Linked DNA regions of Homo sapiens: region 1 is linked to region 2. A link means that fine-mapping ties the variant in region 2 to the expression of a gene that starts in the linked region. Tissue or cell type: whole blood. Region 2 holds a variant in brackets; the other region holds the start of a gene. All regions are shown on one strand. Distances are between the middles of the regions.

Region 1 (9,877 bases), 52 kb after region 2:
TGGGGTTTCACCACGTTGGCCAGACTGGTCTTGAACTCCTGACCTTAAGTGATCCACCCGCCTTGGCCTCCCAAAGTGCTGGGATTACAGGCGTAAGCCACTGTGCCTGGCCAGCAATGGGTTTAAATGGGGAGCCACGATTCTTGCAAGGGGTAGGTAAGGGTGCATGAAGGGAATCCCGAAAACCTTGGGTTGGGAAACTGGTTCCTGAGTGATTTCAAGAAACCTTTCTTCCATCACCTGCTCCCTCCAAACAGAGTGACAAAAAAATGTCTTATGCCAAGAAGTTCATTAACTGAGGGGCTACAGAGACACGGGAATGGACAAAGTAGCCTTAAGACGCCTTTATGGTGGAAACAACCCAAATGTCTATCAATGGATGAATGTATACACAAAATGCGGTCCATCCACACAATGGAATAGTACTGGGCCGCAGAAGCGAATGAAGCACTGACAGCCACTATGGCATGGATCAGTCTTGAAAGCATGATGCTGAATGAAAGAAGCCAGACACAAAAGTCATATATTACATGATTCTATTTATATGAAATGTCCAAAACAAGCAAATCCAGAGAGACAGAAAGTAGGCTGGTGGTTGCCAGGGGCTGCAGGGAGGGGCACTGGGAAGAGAGAGTGACAGTTTAATGGGTACAAGGTTTCCTCTGGGGGTGATGAAAATGCTCTGGAACTAGACAGAAGTAGTGGTTGTACAACATTATAAATGTACTAAATGCCACTGAATTGTTCACTTTAAAATGGTTAAGTTTGGGCTGGGCATGGTGGCTCACGCCTGTAATCCCAGCACTTTGGGAGGCCGAGGCGGGCAGATCATGAGGTCAAGAGATCAAGACCATCCTAGCCAACATGGTGAAACCCCGTCTCTACTAAAAATACAAAAATTAGCTGGGCATGGTGTCACATGCCTGTAATCCCAGCTCCTTGGGAGGCTGAGGCAGGAGAATCGCTTGAACCCAGGAGCTGGAGGTTGCAGTGAGCCGAGATCACGCCACTGCACTCCAGCCTGGCGACAGAGTGAGACTCTGTCTCAAAAAAATAAATAAATAAAATAAAACAAAATAAAATAAAATGGTTAAGCTTATATTATGTGAATTTCACCTCAATTTTTTTTTTCTTTTGAGAAGGAGTCTTGCTTTGTCGCCCAGGCAGGAGTGCAGTGGCACGATCTTGGCTCAATGCAACATCCACCTCCCGGGTTCAAGCGATTCTCCTGTCTCAGTCTCCCGAGTGGCTGGGATTACAGGCACAAGCTACCAGGCTCAACTAATTTTTATTGTATTTTTAGTGGGGACGGGGTTTCGCTATGTTGGCCAGCCTGATCTTGAACTCCTAACCTCAAGTGATCTACCCGCCTCGGCCTCCCAAAGTGCTGGGATTACAGGCGTGAGCCACCGTGCCCAGCCCTCCTCAATTTTTTTAAAAAGAAGCCCTTACGAATCTCTACTAACAGGTCAGTAAGGCAACAAGCACAGCCTGAAAGAAGATCGGTTTCAAAAGGGAAATGCAATTTCCTCAACTGTTAGGAAAGAGACACAGACGCAAGGCTGAGGCTGCAGCAGCACCATGCAGCCAGCCGGCCTGAACCCCATATCCAGGTTCTCTAACCCCATCCAAAGAGAAGAAGTGAGTGGGAAAGCAAAACATGGAAGAAAAATAGCAGTAGGCCAGACACAATGGCTATAATCCAATCCCAGCACTTTGGGAGCCTGAGCCTAGAGGATCACTTGAGTCCAGGAGTTCGAGACCAGCCTGGGCAAAATAGTAAGACCCTGTTTCTATAAAGAAATTAAAATTTTAGCCAGGCATGGTGGCATGCACCTGTAGTCTCATCTGCTCTGGTGGTTGAGGTAGAAGGATCACTTGAGCCCAGGAGTTGGAGACTACAGTGAGCTATGATAGCACCACTGCCCTCCACCCTGAGCAACAAAGTGGGATCCCATCTCAAAAGAAAAAAAAAAAGAAAAAAAAAGCTGGGCGCCGTGGCTCACGCCTGTAATCCCAGCACTTTGGGAGGCCGAGGCAGGCGGATCATCTGAGGTCAGGAGTTCGAGACCAGCCTGGCTAACATGGTGAAACCCCGTTTCTACTAAAAATACAAAAAATTAGCCAGGCCTGGTGGTGTGTACCTGTAATCCCAGCCACTCGGGAGGCTGAGGCAGGAGAATCGCTTGAACCTGGGAGGCAGAGGTTGCAGTGAACCGAGATCACACCACTGTACTCTGGCTCGGGCAACAAGAGGGAAACTCCATCTCAAAGAAAAGAAAAGAAACAAAGCAAAGCAATAAGCAATATAAGACCCTCTGATTTAAAGGAAAATCTGAAATAGCATTTGCCCCAAATCCCCAGGATCAGGAAATGAAATGTTTCCCATAACCACCAGAAGAAAGTATGCTGGGGCGGGAAGAAGATCACAGGTGACCCTGAGCAAATTACTCAGCCTCTCTGAGCCCTTCATATAAAGAGGCTTCCATAAAATGAGTTGATAGAATAATGGTGATTCTGTGGCCCATGTTAAAATTTGAGCCAAAATGCCTTGAAAACAGGCTTGGCCTGCCCCACTTGGCCTGGTCCTCTCCCCTGAGAGTGGTGTCTGGCCACTCATCTTCCATCTAGGATGAGGTTCTCAAAGAGGAAACCCCCGGCTACTGCACAAAGTTCCCTGCTAGGTCACCCCACCCTATCCCCTTCCCCTCCTACTCCCATCCCATCTCCCATTTCTGGCCCATCCTTCAAGGCTCTGCACAAATGACACCTCCTTCAGGGAGCCTCCCAGATTCACACCAGTCTGAGGAGATTTCTCCAGAACCCTCAGTGCCCTGTGCTCCTTCGATCACAACAGCACTCATTCCTTGTGGTGTTTCTCAACAGTGGCACTGCTGGCATTTGGGGGAGGGTGATTTTTTTTTGTTTTTTGTTTGTTTTTTGAGAGGAAGTCTCCTTCTTGTGCCCCACGCTGGAGTGCAATGGCACGATCTCAGCACACTGCAACCTCCGCCTTCCAGGTTCAAGTGATTCTCCTGCCTCAGCCTCCCAAGTAGCTGGGATTACAGGTGTGTGCCACCACGCCCAGCTAATTTTTGTATTTTTAGTAGAGATGGGGTTTCACCATGTTGGCCAGGCTGGTCTCGAACTCCTGACCTCAGGTGATCCTCCTGCCTCGGCCTCCCAAAGTGCTGGGATTACAAGCGTGAGCCACCACGCCCAGCCAGGGGAGGGTGATTCTTTATGTCGTGGCCCTGGCCTGCCTACAGGACACTTTAGTAGGCATCCCTGACTCCCGCCCACTAAAAGCCAGGAGTGCTTAGCATCATTTTGACAACCAAAAGTCGCCCCCACACTTTCCCAAATCCCTGCCAGGAGGGTGGGACCACCCCCGGATGAGAACTAGTGCATTGTTATTAGTGACTATATTTAGCTACCAGCCCACTAGCCATATCTAAGGATGGGCAGTACTACAGACCCTGCATAGAGCTGCATCGGCAAACACTGATGTAGTGAATAAACAAAACAAAACAAACTCCTGGGCTCCTCAAGAAGCTCAGGGCAGCCTTGCCAGGGTCTCTGCTCTTGAACAGGTGCACAAAGGTTCTAAGGCCTGACATGCCTGCACTGGCTGTGTGACCCTGAGCAAGTTACTTAACTTCTCTGAGCCCTTCTATAAAATGGGGCTAAATCCTAGCAACACTGCAGGATTTCTGTAAACCTCAGTCTCCTAATCTCTACTATGGGGTTAAAATTCCCTACGTTGTAGGATTTGGTAGGCATTAAATGAGATAATGCATGTAACACATAGCACAGAATCTGGCAGGCAGCAAGAACTCAATAGATGTTAGTTTTTAATACTGTTATTATTATTATTGTCCAGGGCCAGGTGGCAGCTCATGCCTGTAATCCTAGCACTTGGGAGACTGACGTAGGCGGATCACTTGAGGTAAGGAGTTCAAGACCAGCCTGACCAACATGGTGAAACCCCTTCTCTACTAAAAATACAGAAATTAGCCAGGCATGGTGGTGGGCGCCTGTAATCCCAGCTACTGGAGAGGCTGAGGCATGAGAATCGCTTGAACCCGGGAGGCGGAGGTTGCAGTGAGCCAAGATTGTGCCACTGCACTCCACCCTGGGCAACAGAGACTCCGTCTCAAAATAAATAAATAAGTATTCTTATTATTATCCAAGTTAGGGGCTCATCAAATGATGGCTATTACTCTTCATTACAAAAATATGTTTTGCGTCCTCATCACCAATGCCTGCTTCCTCCATAGGAAGGGTGTGTGTCACCAATGCCTGCTTCCTCCATAGGAAGGGTGTATGAGCAGCAGTCTGGAAGGGGTATGTGGGGCTTGCCCTAAAGCTGCATTTGCATGGCATGCACACTATTTATTCTGAAACTGCATGTTTTTGTGGGGTGATTAGGGAAGAGGGTGGCTAACTCCCCCAAAGCCCTCCCCTTGTTGCAGCCCCCGCCTCCTCCAAGGAACAAAGGAGCTTATGGGGACATAAAGCCATCCTCTTCTCTCTCCTCTGGGGGCAGAGCTAGGGGAGGGGGAGTGGTAAATGGCAGCACAGCTCTAGGGCACCTGAAGTTTCTATCCCCTGCGTGGAGACTCCAAACACCAGGCTGGGGAAGGTAAAAGTAGCCTGTAGGGAGATGGACGCTGCAGGTCCCATCCGGAGGCCAGGTATCCCTCTCTTGCTGATAGCACTGAGACGCCCTCCCCAAAGCTCAGCCTTCTCGGGGAGATCGGAGGGGCTGAGCTGCATCCTGTCCAGCACTAAGTGAGAGTGGCCAGGAGGGCAGGCTGGCAGAGCTGTGAAAGCACCCACTTCCCCAGCTAGGCAGTGCAGGGGCTGGGGGAAAGCCAGGAAAAGCTCAAGGCTGGGTCGGGTGGCACCCCAGGCACAGAGCCCCAATGCTGAGAGGGGCTGGGTCCAGTGTCCCTGAGAGTCAGGCGGACGCCTCTCCGCATTCACAGCATACTGCAACCCCGAGGTGAATTTAGGTCAGAAGGACCAAGCCTGTGAGGCTCCGGCTGAGAGAAGAGGTGCGGTGGGGGTGGTCAAAGGGCAGACCGAAGACAGCCAAAGGTCCCCTAGGTCCCCACAACTGCTGGCCTAGGGTCCTGCCACCTGGTGTCCAAGCCACCAGGGCCTGGGTTTGCCCCGAGACAGGCAGGCTGCGGGGTGGGGGTGCTCCAAGTCCGCTGGTCCTCTCTTCCCCGGAACGCTCCAGATTTCCCCACCTGTCAAACGCGAGGGGCTGGGCCTAGGCCGCCTCCACGAACCCTGACGGACCCGGCCCCCGGTGACCCCGGTTCCAAACTCCAGGACCGCCCCTGCCACCCGGACAGGGCGCGGCCCAGCCGAGGAGGCCATCCCGAGGCCCAGGGCGCCCAGAGGACGCGGGGGAAGGGCTGTCGGGGACCGTGTCCCTCCACGTGGCGGGGCGTGGGGAGGCGCACGTGGGGTCCCTCCGTGTTGGGAGCCCCAGGCCAGCCTCCGGGCTTTGTGTGCCATGCCGGCGGCGGTCCCCCGCCTCGAGAGGGAAACGGAGCGGGCGCCCGGGGCCGCGGCGGCTGCGTCCCTTGCCCCGGGCCCGGCTACCGCCAGCTCACCTGGGCTCCGCGCCGCCGCCGCCTCCCGCGCTCTGCGCCCCCAGCTCGGCTCGGCTCGGCTCAGCTTGCTCTGCGCGGCCGCGCGCTCCTCTCCTCCGCCCGGGCGGCGGGCGCGCGGGGGGCGGGGGCGGGAGGAGCCGCCCGGCTCGGCTTGGGCGCGTCGCCGCCCCGGGCAGCGCGGGGATTGGCCACGGCGGCGGGAAACCCGAAAGCGGAACCGCCCGCGCCCGCCGCGCACCGCCCCCTGCGCGCCCCCGCCGGCTCGGCCCTGCGCCGGGGAGGGGTGGGGAGGCGGGAGCCTGCAAAGACGAAAGTAGCGAAGAGGCGAAGGGCAAGGAGCAGAAAGGGAGGAGGCGAAGAACGGGGGAAGAGAGGCCCGGCCGGGAGGATCGGAGGCGGCTGGGAGGAGAGCCTGGAGGGGCGCGGAGCGCAGGAGGTGGCGCCGCAACTTTGTACCCGCTCGCCCGCGGCGCGCACCTGCCCAGGTTCTTCCCGCGGCGCCCTCGGGCGGGCCGCGCCGGCAGCGCTTGCTTTGTTTAGCCAAATGCCGGGGCTGCAGGGCGCCTCCGGGCTGACCCTGGGAAAGTTCCCCCAAGCCGGCAAGAACACCCGGGGCCCCTCCTGTGGCGACCCGGCTGCTGCCCCTGCGCTAGGCGCCGGGCGGTGGATGCGGCCTGGACTTTGGGCCACCACCGACTCGGGGGAGCCCCCTTCCGCAGCTGCCTGCCGACTGACCACTTGCTCAGGGCCGGCCCTAAAGGCTGGGGGAAGGCGTTCCTCTCCCATCCCCAGCCCACCTGGATGCACCATTGAAGTTCATTCTGGCTTTTCCAGATGGCTACTTAGATGCTTTTTGTGAAATACAGCATATTCTTCCCATTCTCCCCTTTTTGGCACTTACTTTGCTGGAGCCTTAAGTGTGCGTTGGATCCCCCAGCTGGATAACAGCACTGTGCGGGGAAGAGGAGAAACGAAGACCTGGAGGGCTCCCTGAACCGTCCTACGGGGTCGAGCGACCCAGGGGATGTCTCACTGACCCTGCCAAACAGCCAAAAGGGAATCGAGTTGACAGGAGAGTCAACCTCCAAGTTAATAAAAGGTTCAAAGCCCTCTAGTTAACTGGGTGGATTTCCAGCCCGTTCCGATGTGCTTCTCTTGTATTTCTAGGCCGTAGGGACACTCACATGCAACGAGCCAATGAGAGCTCCACCCCGACTCCCTTTTTTTTTTTTTTTTTTTTCTTTTCTGAAACGGAGTCTCGCTCTGTCGCCCACGCTGGAGTGCAGTGACGCGATCTCGGATCACTGCAACCTCTGCCTCCCAGGTTCAAGCAGTTCTCTGCCTCAGTCTCCCGAGTAGCTGGGATTACAGGCGCCGGCCACCATACTTGGCTAATTTTTGTATTTTTCGTAGAGATGGGGTTTCACCATGTTGTCCAGGCTAATCTTGAATTCCTGACCTCGTGATCCACCCGCCTTGGCCTCCGAAAGTGCTGGGATTACAGGTGTGAGTCACCGCGCCCGGCCCACTCCCATTTTTTTTTCTTTGTTTTTTTTGTTTGTTTGTTTGTTTGTTTGTTTGTTTGTTTTGAGACAGGGTCTCTCTGTGTTGCCCAGGCTGGAGTGCAGTAGCACGATCACGGCTCGCTGCACCCTCGACCTCCCCAGGCTCAGGTGATCCTCCAGCCTCAGCCTCCTGAGTAGCTGGGACTACAGGCACACACCACCACACCTGGCTAATTTTTTCTATTTTTTGTAGAGACAGAGTTCTCCCTATGTTGCCCAGGCTGGTCTCAAACTCCTGGGCTCAAGTGATCCTCCTGCCTCTGCCTCCCAAAGTGCTGGGATTATAGGCATGAGCCAACATGCTCGGCCATCCACCTCTTCTGATGTTACTCAACGTGCATGCATTTGCTGGAAATGGCAAAAACCTGAGGCCGGGCATGGTGGCTCACGCCTATGATCCCAGCACTTTGGGAGGCCCGGGCGGAGAGATCACTTGAGGCCAGAAGTTCGAGACTAGCCTGGCCAGCATGGTGAAACCCCATCTCTATCAAAAATACAAAAATTAGCCCGGTGTGGTGGCGGTGCCCGTAATCCCAGCTACTCAGGAGGCTGAAGCACGAGAACCACTTGAACCGGGAGGCAGAGAGATCGCACCACTACCCTCCAGCCTGGACGACAGACCAAGACTGTTTCAAAAAAAAAAAAAAAAGTCTGGGCACAGTGGCTCACGCCTGTAATCCCAGCACTTTGGGAGGCCAAGGTGGGCAGATCACGAAGTCAGGAGTTCAAGTCCAGCCTGACCAGCATGGTGAAACCCCGTCTCTACTTAAAAAAAAAATGCAAAAATTAGCCAGGCATGGTGGCGCGCGCCTGTAATCCCAACTACTCAGGAGGCTGAGGCAGGAGAATCGCTTGAAACCCGGGAGGCAGAGGTTGCAGTGAGCCGAGATCATGCCACTGCACTCCAGCCTGGGTGACAGAGCAAGACTCCATCTCAAAAACAAAACAAAACAAAACAAAAACACAAAAAAAAAACCACCTGGGAACAACTTCCTATATGTTCATCAAAGGAATGGATAAATGAAACTCATTATAGTTGTTTGATGGAATACCATCTAATAGATAAAAGGGGTGCACTGGATCTGTACTGACATAAGGAAATCCCAAAAACATAATGTTGAGTAAAACAGCAAGTTGCAGAATACAACATGATGTACAATTTGTGTGTACCTTAAAATCCCATGCAGTAGATACTGTTCATGGACACATGCTTACATACAAGATTTTTAAAGTCAAAGAGAAGAATATACATTAAATTCATGACAGTGTGCCACAAAGAAGGAAAAAAGCACAGAACGGGACAGGGAGCATAAGGAATGTTGTAAAGTTTTATTCCTTTTAGTACTTATAAATGGCTGTGAGGCAAATGGCAAACTGTTAGCAATAGTCAATTCTGAATGGGGGATGCATAGTCCCGTATTTTTCTATATTCTCATATTTCCCCCCCCCCCCCCAAAAAAAATATGTATCAGGCCTGGTGGAGATTATCTGGGGCACTTTAAGGCAGGGTCAGCAAACTTTGTAAAGGGCCAGATAGTAAATATTTTAGGCTTTGCAAGCCATAGGCTCTGTAATGCAGCTACTCAACCCTGCCATCCTAGCAGCCACAGGAAATAGTAAATGAATGCATGCGGCAGTGTTCCAATAAAACTTTATTTACAGACACTGAAAACTGAATTTCATATGATTTTCATAAGTCACAAAATATTACTGTTTTGGTTTTTATTTAACCATTGAAAAATGTGAAAGGCCAGGTGTGGTGGCTTACACCTACACGCGTGATTACAATCTTAGCACTCTGGGAGGCCGAGGGGGCAGGATCACTTGAGCCTAGAAGTTTGAGACCAGCCTGGACAACATGGCAAGACCCATCTTGACAAAAAGAAAAAAGAAAAACGTAAAAACCATTCTTAGCAGGCCATAAAAAACAGGTGGCATGACAGATTTAGCTTATGGGCAATAAATAGTTTGGCAACCCTGCTTTACTAAGGTAACCAAAATAGATTTGGGTGTCCTTTCCTGTTACTGGATGTCTTTTCCTGGTACTTGTTAAACAATTCTGTATGTTTACATCATGTTACTAAATTGCCTGTGTTTTATTAGAACACTGTAGCTCACACAGGCAGAAACTTAGATATACACACAGCTGTGTAAACTTAAAAGCCAATTAAGTAAGAAAGGTTGGGAAGTGCCCCTACAAATCCAAACCCTAGCTCAAGAGTTGCTTTTCCTGATAGTTTCCTGAAATGCTGTGAGCCAGGCCCTCCCTGCCCGCTCCTCTCTCTGATGTCTTAAAGCAAGGACTGTACCATTTATTTGATGCTCAGCCACCTCCCTTCCTTCTTTATTCCTTCCTTTTTCACTCTGTGTTTTGACTTGCCAATAGACCTATATCTTCCTGGCATCTAGGCAGGTACCACATCTGAAACCTTTGTATACTCTCCGCATTGTGGGTGACAGCAATGACCCTGAAGTCAGATAGATTTTGTTCACATCCCAGTTTCACTAGTTACCAGCTCTGTGGCCTTGGGCAAATGACTTGATCTCTCCCAATTTGGTTTCGTCAGCTGTCAAATGGGGATAATAATAGTATCTAGCTCACAGGTTTCCCATGAGGTTTAAATCTAACGATGTATGTATGTAAAGATACTAGCTCTGTGCTTGGTACATAAGTCTTCAATG
Region 2 (9,877 bases):
CTTTGCTCTTCAAAACCAGCATTCCCTAATTCTGAACTGCTTATAAGATAGCAAAACAAGTCTGGCTAAACTACAGTCAAGAGCTTAGGATCTATGGAAGCCAAGAAGGCCCAGGGCTCCATGAATGGGCTGGGCAGGGGCACGAGGCCTTGCCTTTGTCTGAGAAGTCCTCACACCACAGCTGATCAGATGGAAACAATGGGGAAGCAGAGTTTCCCGGTGCCGTCTTTCCCCAGCCCAGATTCCACCAAGCGCTGGAAAGCAGAGCTGGGAATCTCCCAAGGCAGAGTCCTTCCAGCTTTCCTCCCCCTCAACTTCACACTCCCCTACCTGTGGCTCTGGAAGGAGTCACACTTGAACCTCAACCAAACTTCCCAATATCAGTTGGAAGTCAAAAAGATGAACCCTTTCTTTCTGGACTTTTAGCTACAAAGGGGAACTTCCTGTGCCAAGCCCTGGTTTCCTCATACCCCAACGAGTGCTGTGGGTTTCAACAGTCTTCTCTAAAAGGGTGCCCCAAGGTTATTGTGTGGAGTCTAGGGAAGCTCAGATCCTCAGGATGATCATTTGTGTGTTGGTCCAGTGAAAGCATTTCCCACCTGGCCCTCCAGAAACTGGGTATTTCATTGACCACAACAATCAGCTAGGATTTAAAATGAAAACAAAACCTTAGCAGTCTTTAGAATATACAGGTTATGAACTAGCTAAGCTGCTAATATATATACAGGCGGGCATAGGTTTCATCGGCTCTAACTGATCACATGCCTGAAGCTGTGAAATATATCCTGGAAGCTCTAAATAGTTTCTGAACTACTGTGCTCTAGAGTTCACTCTAGTTAGAGACTTGAAAAATGTTTTTGTTTAATCTTAAGCCATGTAATGTACATGGAAGCATAGGATTTCACCCTGAAGTTTTCGTAATTTGACAAAGAGATTTACCAGAGCTCGGTCAGCTATCTCAGAAACCTGCTTTGAGCAGCTGTCATGAAGAAACACGTTCAGTCTTTCAGGAGAAATGTTTCCCCACCACAGCTGCTGAATACCCTTCCAGGCTTGGAAAATCCCCTTCCAGCAGCACTTATTAAATTTCAAGCCCTTTCTGTTTTCCTGACTACAATTCTACCCATAAAAAATTTAAAAATCCTTCTTACAAATAAGTTGCATCAAAGCTCCCTGCAGCTACTGAGGGCCAGCCCTGCTCTGACTCCTTGAGACCACGGCTCTGGAAGGTGCCATGGTTTCCGGTTTGCACTAGGAGCCACATCTAGCCCCCTACTCCCTCTCAAATGCAGCAACCACCTCCATGGCCTCAGACCGCCGGAGTTTTCTGCTCGCCTTTCCACAGTTGTCAAACCCCACACACAGTCACTTGGTATATCTGACGTGGTTCTGAAAATCACAATGAAGGATTTTTGGCATAAAAACGTTTTAAAAAGCAATTGTCCCAAAATGCACGTGGGTTTGGGTCTGCAACTCCTCACACCCGCCTGTCCAGCCAGCCAGCGGCCACGGTCGACGTCATGGAGTCAAGTCCTTTTTTTTTTTTTGTCCCCTTTAAAACAACAAAGGAAAAAACAAATAACCAGAGATGACGATCGAGGCTCTACACACGTGCTGGGTTTCCGTAGGACATGCTGCTATGGAAACGCGGTGCAGCAGCCCCCCAGAGGCGACGCGGCGCGCATGCGAGGTCGAGCGATCCAGGCAGCTACTCGGGCTCCATGGCCTCCTCCGGCCGCAGTGGATGCATGCGTGCGGGGGAGCCGGGGGCGGGGGCCCAGCAACTTTCCACGCAGGGACTGCCTCTCACAAGAGCACTTCCTCCTCCCCCACGGGGGGCGGGTCGGTGCCCTGGAGGTTGTCTTCGCTGCCTTGCTTCCTGCTCACCGAACAGAAAACCAACATTAAGACTCTGAGAAATGCCAGCGAGGCCCTGAGCCAGCTGCTCCCACATCTGGGCCCCCTGCCCAAGTGGGCCGTCGCGCACCCCCTGGAACGTGATCTACGTAACCCAGTCTTTGAGATCCTCTCCCCTTTTCCTTGCTCACATAAATTTTTCAAAGGAGACTTTGCACGCAGCCCCTCTGTAAATGAAAGACCAGCATCATTTGCCAAAAATAGCAAGGACCCGTACAACAGTTCCAAAACTATGTAACACCAAAATTCACTGCACAAATCCCAAGTAGAAGGCACCCCCCACCCCACGGCGCCTGTCATACCAGGTTTTTAGGTACTTCGATCCCCCACTTAGGCTATGAGCCCTTACAGGGAAGGGACTGTGACGCTTGTCCTCAGTCACCAGATGTTGAGTTCCTTGTGTGTGGGGGTGATCAGAGCCTCCCCTGCCTGGCCTGGCACACAGCTGGCCCTCAAGAAAGGGCAGATGACAACTGCTCCAGGGATCCTCCCGCCTCAGCCCTCCTGCAGCCAGCCCTGAGGGAGGAGCACCTCAGACAGAAGAGGAGGCCCCTTCCCTCTTGGAAGTGGGAGGAGGAGAGCCCTTGTTTCCCTGAAGAGCCCAGGCTGGAGCCGCCGGTGTGACAGCGTGGATGGCGTGACAGGTGCGAGGGGAATCCCCGAGCCTATCCCCTCACCACCATCACACAGCTCCCCTGTTCTTAGGGAGGTCACTGGGCATGCCACATGGGTTACTGTCTGTCCTTCCCCCACAACAATCCGTGTCTCCTGTCCAGGAGGGAGACTGTCCTTACACAAGGGAAAGGAAGCGTGATGTCTGGCTTGCTATGTTTCTGATGGAGAATGTGGGTAAGGTCCCTGGGGAGGGGGGCGCTGTAACTAGACGTTAGGTCAGGCCCTCAGTCTCTGCCCTCGCAGTTGCCTGTTGGTAGGGGTTGGGTCTTACTGCAGACGGCAGGCAGGCCCCCAGTCCAAGACCCCCAGTGCCTGAATCAGCTCTGTGAGCTCCCATGACCAAGGCATCCTACCTGCTGGGGGCTGAGGGCAGGGGATCCCAGGTGAAGAAAGGAAGGGGCAGCATAGCCCTTTGGGGCCAGTCTCCATCTGCTGGTGTCTTGCAATTTTGATCTCATTGAAACGAAGGCCGGGCACAGTGGCTCATGCCTGTAATCCCAGTACTTTGGGAGGCTGAGGCAGGCAGATCACCCGAGGTCAGGAGTTCAAGACCAGCCTGGCCAACATGGTGAAACCCCCATCTCTACTAAAAAAATACAAAAATTAGCTGGGCATGGTGGCACATGTCTGTAAACCCAGCTACTCAGGAAGCTGAGGCAGGAGAATCGCTTGAGCCTAGGAGGCAGAGGTTGCAGTGAGCCGAGATCACACCACTACACTCCAACACTCCAACCTGGGCAACAGTGCAAGACCCTGTCTCAAAAAAAAAAAAGAAAGAAAGAAAGAAAGAAAGAAAATAGGAAAGAAACCAACAGCAGACTTGCTCAGAGACAGGAGGCAGCCCCGGTTTGGCAAACCCTAAAATGGAGATTGAGAGGAGGAAGGCCGAGGAAAGGCCAGCCCGCTGGGTTTCCACTCCATCATCCGTGAGGCTCACACCCAAGGCGGGGCTGCCCAGGCGTCTGTCTGGGCACAAGCTGGGGACTGTGTCTGCCTTCTGAGACTGCTGAAGACCGGTTCTGAAGGACTGCCATTTTCCCTGCTCTATGCTGGAGGGCAAGGTTTCTCTCAAAAGCATAAATAATTCCCAAACAGGTGTTCCTCCTAGATTACCATATAAGCCCTGACTCCCACGGGATGGGTGGCCAATCCATTTCTTTTTCTTTTCTTTTTTTTTTGAGACGGAGTCTCGCTCTGTCGCCCAGGCTGGAGTGCTGTGGCGCAATCTCGGCTCACTGCAAGCTCCGCCTCCCGGGTTCACGCCATTCTCCTGCCTCAGCCTCCCGAGTAGCTGGGACTACAGGCGCCCGCCACCGCGCCCGGCTAATTTTTTGTATTTTTAGTAGAGACGGGGTTTCACTGTGTTAGCCAGGATGGTCTCGATCTCCTGACCTCGTCATTCGCCTGCCTTGGCCTCCCAAAGCGCTGGGATTACAGGCGTGAGCCACCGCGCCCAGCCTTTTTTTTTGAGACAGATTTTTGCTCTTGTTGCCCAGGCTGGAGTGCAATGACGTGATCTCAGCTCACCGCAACCTCCACCTCCTGGGTTCAAGTGATTCTCCTGCCTCACCTCCCGAGTAGCTGGGACTACAAGTGTGCGCCACCATGCCCGGCTAATATTTGTATTTTTAGTAGAGACGGGGTTTCACCATATTGGCCAGGCTGGTCTCAAACTCCTGACCTCATGATCCACCTGCCTCGGCCTCCCAAAGTGCTGGGATTACAGGCGTGAGCCACTGCATCCAGCCTGCTAGTCAATCCATTTCATCTCGTAAGCCAACTCCTAACACTTTGTACACAAATGTTCATAGCATCAGTCTTCATTCGATAGCCAAAAGGTGGAGACAAGTCCATCCACAGAGGAATGGATGAACAAAGTGAGGTGCATCCAAACAATGGAATCTTATTTGGCCATGAAAAGGAATGAAGCACTAATACATGTAGAGCATGGATGAACCTTGAAAACATGATGCTGAGAGAAAGAAGCCAGACACAGAAGGCCACGTAGTGTATGACGCCATTTATACGAAACGTCCAGAATAGGCAAATCCATACCTATTCTGAGTGGTTACTGGGGTGGGGGAGTTGGATGGGGACAGCTAAGGAGTGTAGGGTGTCTTCTTGGGCTGATGAAAATGTCGTAAAGTTGA[C/T]GGTGGTAATGGCTGCAGAAGTCTGTATTAGAAACCACTGAATCATACACTTCCCGTGGGTGAATTACATGGTATGTGAATTGTACCTCAGTAAAGCTATGTTTAAGAAACAGAAGTGACTGCCTGGAGCTCCCACCAAGTCAGGTAGCCATGATGTGCTCAGTGGGAAGGGCAGTGGGGTCCCCACCCACCACAGCACCTGCAGCAGGGGTGCCCAGCAGGTTCTCCCAGTCTCATAAGGACACAAAGCCTCATCTGTCCTGGGAGGTTCTGGTCACCTGGGCTGGCTATGTGTATGAAGGAAGGGTGGCTGACAGCAAGAAGGTCTGCATCCACTCGGGTGAGGGAACTCTTACGTTACTTTGCAACAGGCAGGAAGGGGACTTATTTTCTAGGTCTAAACACATCAAAGAAAGAGAAGTGGAGGCTGGAGAGCCCCTAGCGAAGAGCCACACAGTGCAGCATGCCTGACCTATGTGCTGACCATGCGGACTCGGGGGGGCACCCATGGGCCCTGTGACAGAGCTTCAACACCATTGACGTGCACTGAGAAGACATGGGTGCCACACAGGATCTTCAGACCTGGGTGCATTCTCAGGCATTCCAGCTGGAGCGCCATGCACCCGCAGCCCCAGCCCACATGCATGACCCACCATTGGGTCCAAGCCCCCGAGGCCCCTCATTCTAATACTGGGTCTGGAGGCCCGCGGTGAGCCGGGCCACAGCAGCCCAGGCTGGAAGGAGCATCTGCCCGGGTGGGGATGCCCCCGTGCTCTGCAGCTGCCCACCCGCCCCCCTCAGGCCCCAGCAGAGGCTACGGCACAGGCAGGCGGGCGTTACCTTGAGCTCAGACAGGGACTCACATTCCCTGGTTGGTTTTTTGCTGGAATCACCAGAGGGAGGGAAAAGGGAAGTGAGAAGGGACCCTTGGGATCCACGGGATGCCCGTTCCCCCACCCTGAGACACTCAGACCCCAAACACCAGCTTCATAGAGCTGGAGCCAGGGTGGCGTTGACAGCAGATGAGTGGACACCTCTCTGCATGGACACACAGGGTCCTGAGTGAGACCACACTGCTCGCCCAGCACAGAGCCTCAAACCTCCCCATCAGGCACTCACGGTCCCGGGCCACAAAAGTGCTTTTCTTCTGACTGACCAAGAGCCCCCCAGCTACAGTGCAAGTTCCCGAGAAAGGTAAACTTCAGGTGGATTAGCTGTCAGCAAAAGGAGGTGGGCTGAGCCCAGGTTGGGGTGCTGACTGTCCCAGTGCACCAGGTGGGTTTCATCTGAGTCTCTCCAGATGGCACCACTTCAGGGAGGACCTGTGCAGAGTGGTCTGGGCAGGGCTGCCCCAAGCCTAGCCTCCAGCCACCACTCCCCCACCCAAGAAGGCAGGCGGCCACTCACGTGAGCAAGTTTCCAGGCGCTGACAGTGAGCGTTCCTCCCGCCGGCTGCCCTCGAATGGGTTCCCAAAGGAGCGTTTACGTATCATGGTCTTCACCAGGATCTGAAGAGGGAGAAAAGAGGAGGTGGCAGGCAACTGCTTGGCCATGTGGGGGCGATTCTGGGCAACATCCTCCCTCTTCCTTCTCCCCAGCCCCTGCCAGCTCCCAGGGCTGGTGACCGATGGCAGACTTTGAGAGAAACTGGGCAGCACCACCCCGCAACCAACCCCCGCCGAAAGAATCCTCTGGGAAAAGGTGCTGTCCTGCACCACACCCTCAGCCACTGCTCAGCGTCTCTCCCAGGCCTCCCTGCTTTCCACCTCCCTCCCTCCCATCCCTTCCAAAACCCAGATCTGGTCCCCTCACTCCCTGACTCAGCATCCCCACCCAGAGGGGTCTGGAACTTGGCCTGTGGTCAGCCAGAGAGCCCCGGAAAGTTCTGGAGCAAGGACGTGAACCAGTCATTCTTGGTGATGCTCTTGGCTGCCATTTCCCATGAAGGGAATGGCCTGAGGGCCCCATAAGAGTCACTGGGCCCCTCACCCCACCCCAACCAGGGCACGGTGCCCCTTCAAGCTGTTTTGGGAATTCACAGAGCTTCTGACTTTTTAAGCATTTGCTGCTAACAAGAAAAATAAGTGTTTAAGAAACACTGATTTACCAAAAGATGCAAACACCCAAATGCCCATCAACTGAAGAAGATAAACTCAAAGCGGTCTGTCTGTGCAATGGAACATGATTCAGCCATAAGGAGTGAAGCACTGATCCATGCTACAACACAAACGGACCCTGAAAACCTTCTCCTACGTCAAAGTAGCCAGGCCCGAAAGGCCTCAGAGTGTAGGATTCCACCAGAATACACAAATCTATAGACACAGAGGGCAGGTGAGTGGGTGCCAGGGCTGGGGGGAGGTGAATGGAGAGTCATTGCTGATGGGCGGGGGTGTGAAGTAATGAAAATGTTCAGAACTATTGAGGAGATAATTGCATGTCACTGTGAATGTCCCAAATGTCACTGAATTGTTCACTTTAATTTTATGTTATGTGAATTCTACCTCAATTTAAAAGAAGGAGCGGGGGGGGGGAGGCGGGCGTGGTGGCTCATGCTTGTAATACCAGCACTTTGGGAGGCTGAGGCAGGTGGATCACCTGAGGTCAGGAGTTTGAGACCAGCCTGGCCAGCATGGAGAAACCGCGTCTCCACTAAAAATACAAAAATTAGCTGGGCATGGTGGTAGGCACCTGTCATCCCAGCTACATGGGAGGCTGAGGCAGAAGAATTGCTTGAACCTGGGAGGCGGAGGTTGCAGTGAGCCAAGACCACACCACTGCACTCCAGCCTGGGCAACGAGAGCAAAACTCCATCTCAAAAAAAAAAGAGAGAGAGAATGAAGGCCTCTTCCCCTACTGAGGTTCTTACAGTCACTGGGACATGCCAGCCCCTCTTTCCTCTGTGTCTGAGCAGATGTCACTCCCCAGGTGAGCCCACCCTGCCGCCTCCCCTGTGGCCTTGTCAACCCAGAGCAGGAGCTCCTCCTCTGTGAAGCCCCCAGCCCTTGCATCTCTCTGCACTGGCCTCTGATCACACAGGAGGCTGATTCTTCCCAGGTCCATCTTTCTTATAAGGCCAGGAGCCCCTCCCCCAGCCCCCCAGCCCCCTACCCCTGAGAGCAGGCACTGGGCTAAGCTCATCTTTGACACCTATGCCTGGCACACACTGGCTGCTCCGTGTTTGCTAAATGATGAACACATGCAGGGGGCCTGGACCTTGCCATCTTGTCCCAAGTCAGACCACTTCCCAGTATCTACCCGCCCATCCCTGCTCCAGCTGCCCTGGTTCAAACCCTGATTCAAACCCATGCTCTTGGAGTAAACATGTAAAACCTCGCCACACCCTCCCTCCACCTTCCTTGCCCTGCTTCAGTGGCCCCACCCAGTGTGTTAGCCCGTCCGCCCTCTCTCGGCGGAGTTAACACCCTACCATCCTCTCGGTGTCTATCCACTTCTTCCCAGTGGGTCCAAGTGTGCCTCCATTAGGGGCATGTCCTGTGGTCCCTCTACTGCACTGTACATACATTTGTTGGTTTGACCAGCATCTGCCTCTCAAGCATGGCAGAGGCCATGGGGGTTTTGTTCATCACTCCACCCAGCCCCTGCTCCCAGCACAGGCCTGAGAAACCACTCGGTGTTCAACAAGTGTTTCCCGTATAATGAATGCCTACTCCAGACCTCCAGGGCCAGACGCTTTCTCCCAAGAACCCGTCCCAGAGACCCAGGAAGGAAAGGGAGGGCAACTGATTCAGGACTGAGAACCTCCTGAGCCTGGAACACAGTAACCCACGGTGGGTGCAGAGTCCGACGCCAGCTGTCTCCTCGTCTACAGGCACAAGGGGTGGTTGAGGAAGGGTGAGTGGGTGTGGGTGGGTCTTCAACAGTGAAGGTCCTGCACAGCCCCAGGTGGGGAAAGAGTGGAGGAAGATGTGGATGGATGCCCCAGCCAGGGCTCAGCTTTGGGAGGAGGAGAGAGGAAGTGTGTGGGGAAGCAGAGAAGAGAGGTGCAAAGCTGGAGGAGCAGGAGCAGCATCTGGGCTCCTACAGGGGCAATCCTTCACAGCTGGACCTTCTGTGCCTTTCCAGCCAGTCTCAAGGGTCCCTCCCAGAGCCCAGGGGCCCGCCGGCCCACTGGGACTAGTGCTGGCCAACTGCAACCAGGCCTTTCGAGGTGGCTGTGGTGGGACAACCTGCTGGTCTCTGTCCCCAAGCCTGCTGCCTGGAACCTGGATCCCTGGGACTCTTGGTCTCTCTCTTGGAGCTAACTGCCCTCCTGGACAGGGACTTGGTCAGTGGCGATTCCCAGAGCCTCCAAGGTTAGGCCTGAGGACTCTACATTCTGGCTCCTTCTTCCTGGGTCAGGATCCAAATTCAAGGCCATAAAAGGGGACCTACTTGCTCCTAAGCAATTCTCACTCTCAGGAGATGGGCAGAACTTTCTGAGTGTGTGCGTGGAAGTCCCTGCCCCTACCCCTGGTGGCTGCCCACACAGCAGACGTGAGATATGCTACGCCATCCACCCTGGAGCCTAAAATTCCAGCTAGGCGGGAATCCTGGCTTAGAGACCTGGGCTCCGGCTCCCAACCCTTGCCCCTGCCTGGAACTTCTCCTAGTTCCTCTCCCCTGATGAGCTCTGAAAGCAGGAATTCCAGAAGGATAATCTTCCCCTTCCTATGGTAACATGGAACCTGGCTCAGAAGATGCAGGGGTCACCTGGCCTGATACATGACCAAGGCCCAGAGGCCAGCAGCTGTGGATTAGGGGTGGCCCCCGGACATCTGACTCCCGGGCACCCGCCTGTGTCCGGCCTGTCCTGGCCAGGCCCCACCTCAGGCTCCTGGGTCCCTGCTCTGGGTCAGGGGTCCATCCACCTTACCACGGTTGCCAAGCTGGGAATGTGTTTGACTGAGTTCTCGACCTCCTCTTCAGTCACTTCGACCAGCGTGCAGTTCTCATCCTCCGACGGCAACGGCTCCGCCCCATGCCTCGTGACCCAGGGGTGCAGCTTCAACGAACGACAGGAGGGGTGAGGGGCAGGTGTGGCTGGCTACCGGGGGGCCCTGCCAGCGAGCGGAGCCACAAGGGCATGCAGGACGGAGAGGCAAGGGCCTGTGGTCAGGCATGCAAAACAGCTGGCG

The links.
Region 1: it holds the start of CAMKK2, and the variant in region 2 is fine-mapped to the expression of CAMKK2 in whole blood (INTERVAL, PIP above 0.99).

What each region holds. Positions count from the first base shown.
Region 1 is chr12:121,291,008-121,300,884 of GRCh38, forward strand. It overlaps CAMKK2 (calcium/calmodulin dependent protein kinase kinase 2), which reads right to left and starts at 5,702. Exons shown (of 17, transcript NM_001270485.2): 1 at 5,631-5,702. RefSeq lists a silencer at 5,238-6,387.
Region 2 is chr12:121,238,991-121,248,867 of GRCh38, forward strand. It overlaps CAMKK2 (calcium/calmodulin dependent protein kinase kinase 2), which reads right to left. Exons shown (of 17, transcript NM_001270485.2): 14 at 9,616-9,744; 15 at 6,150-6,250; 16 at 5,583-5,625; 17 at 1-1,879. The coding sequence ends at 1,709. Among named protein-coding and RNA genes, the nearest start is that of P2RX4, 34 kb to the left of the region's middle. RefSeq lists silencers at 1,776-1,855, 6,794-7,007. The variant C/T (reference allele first, on the strand shown) is at 4,743.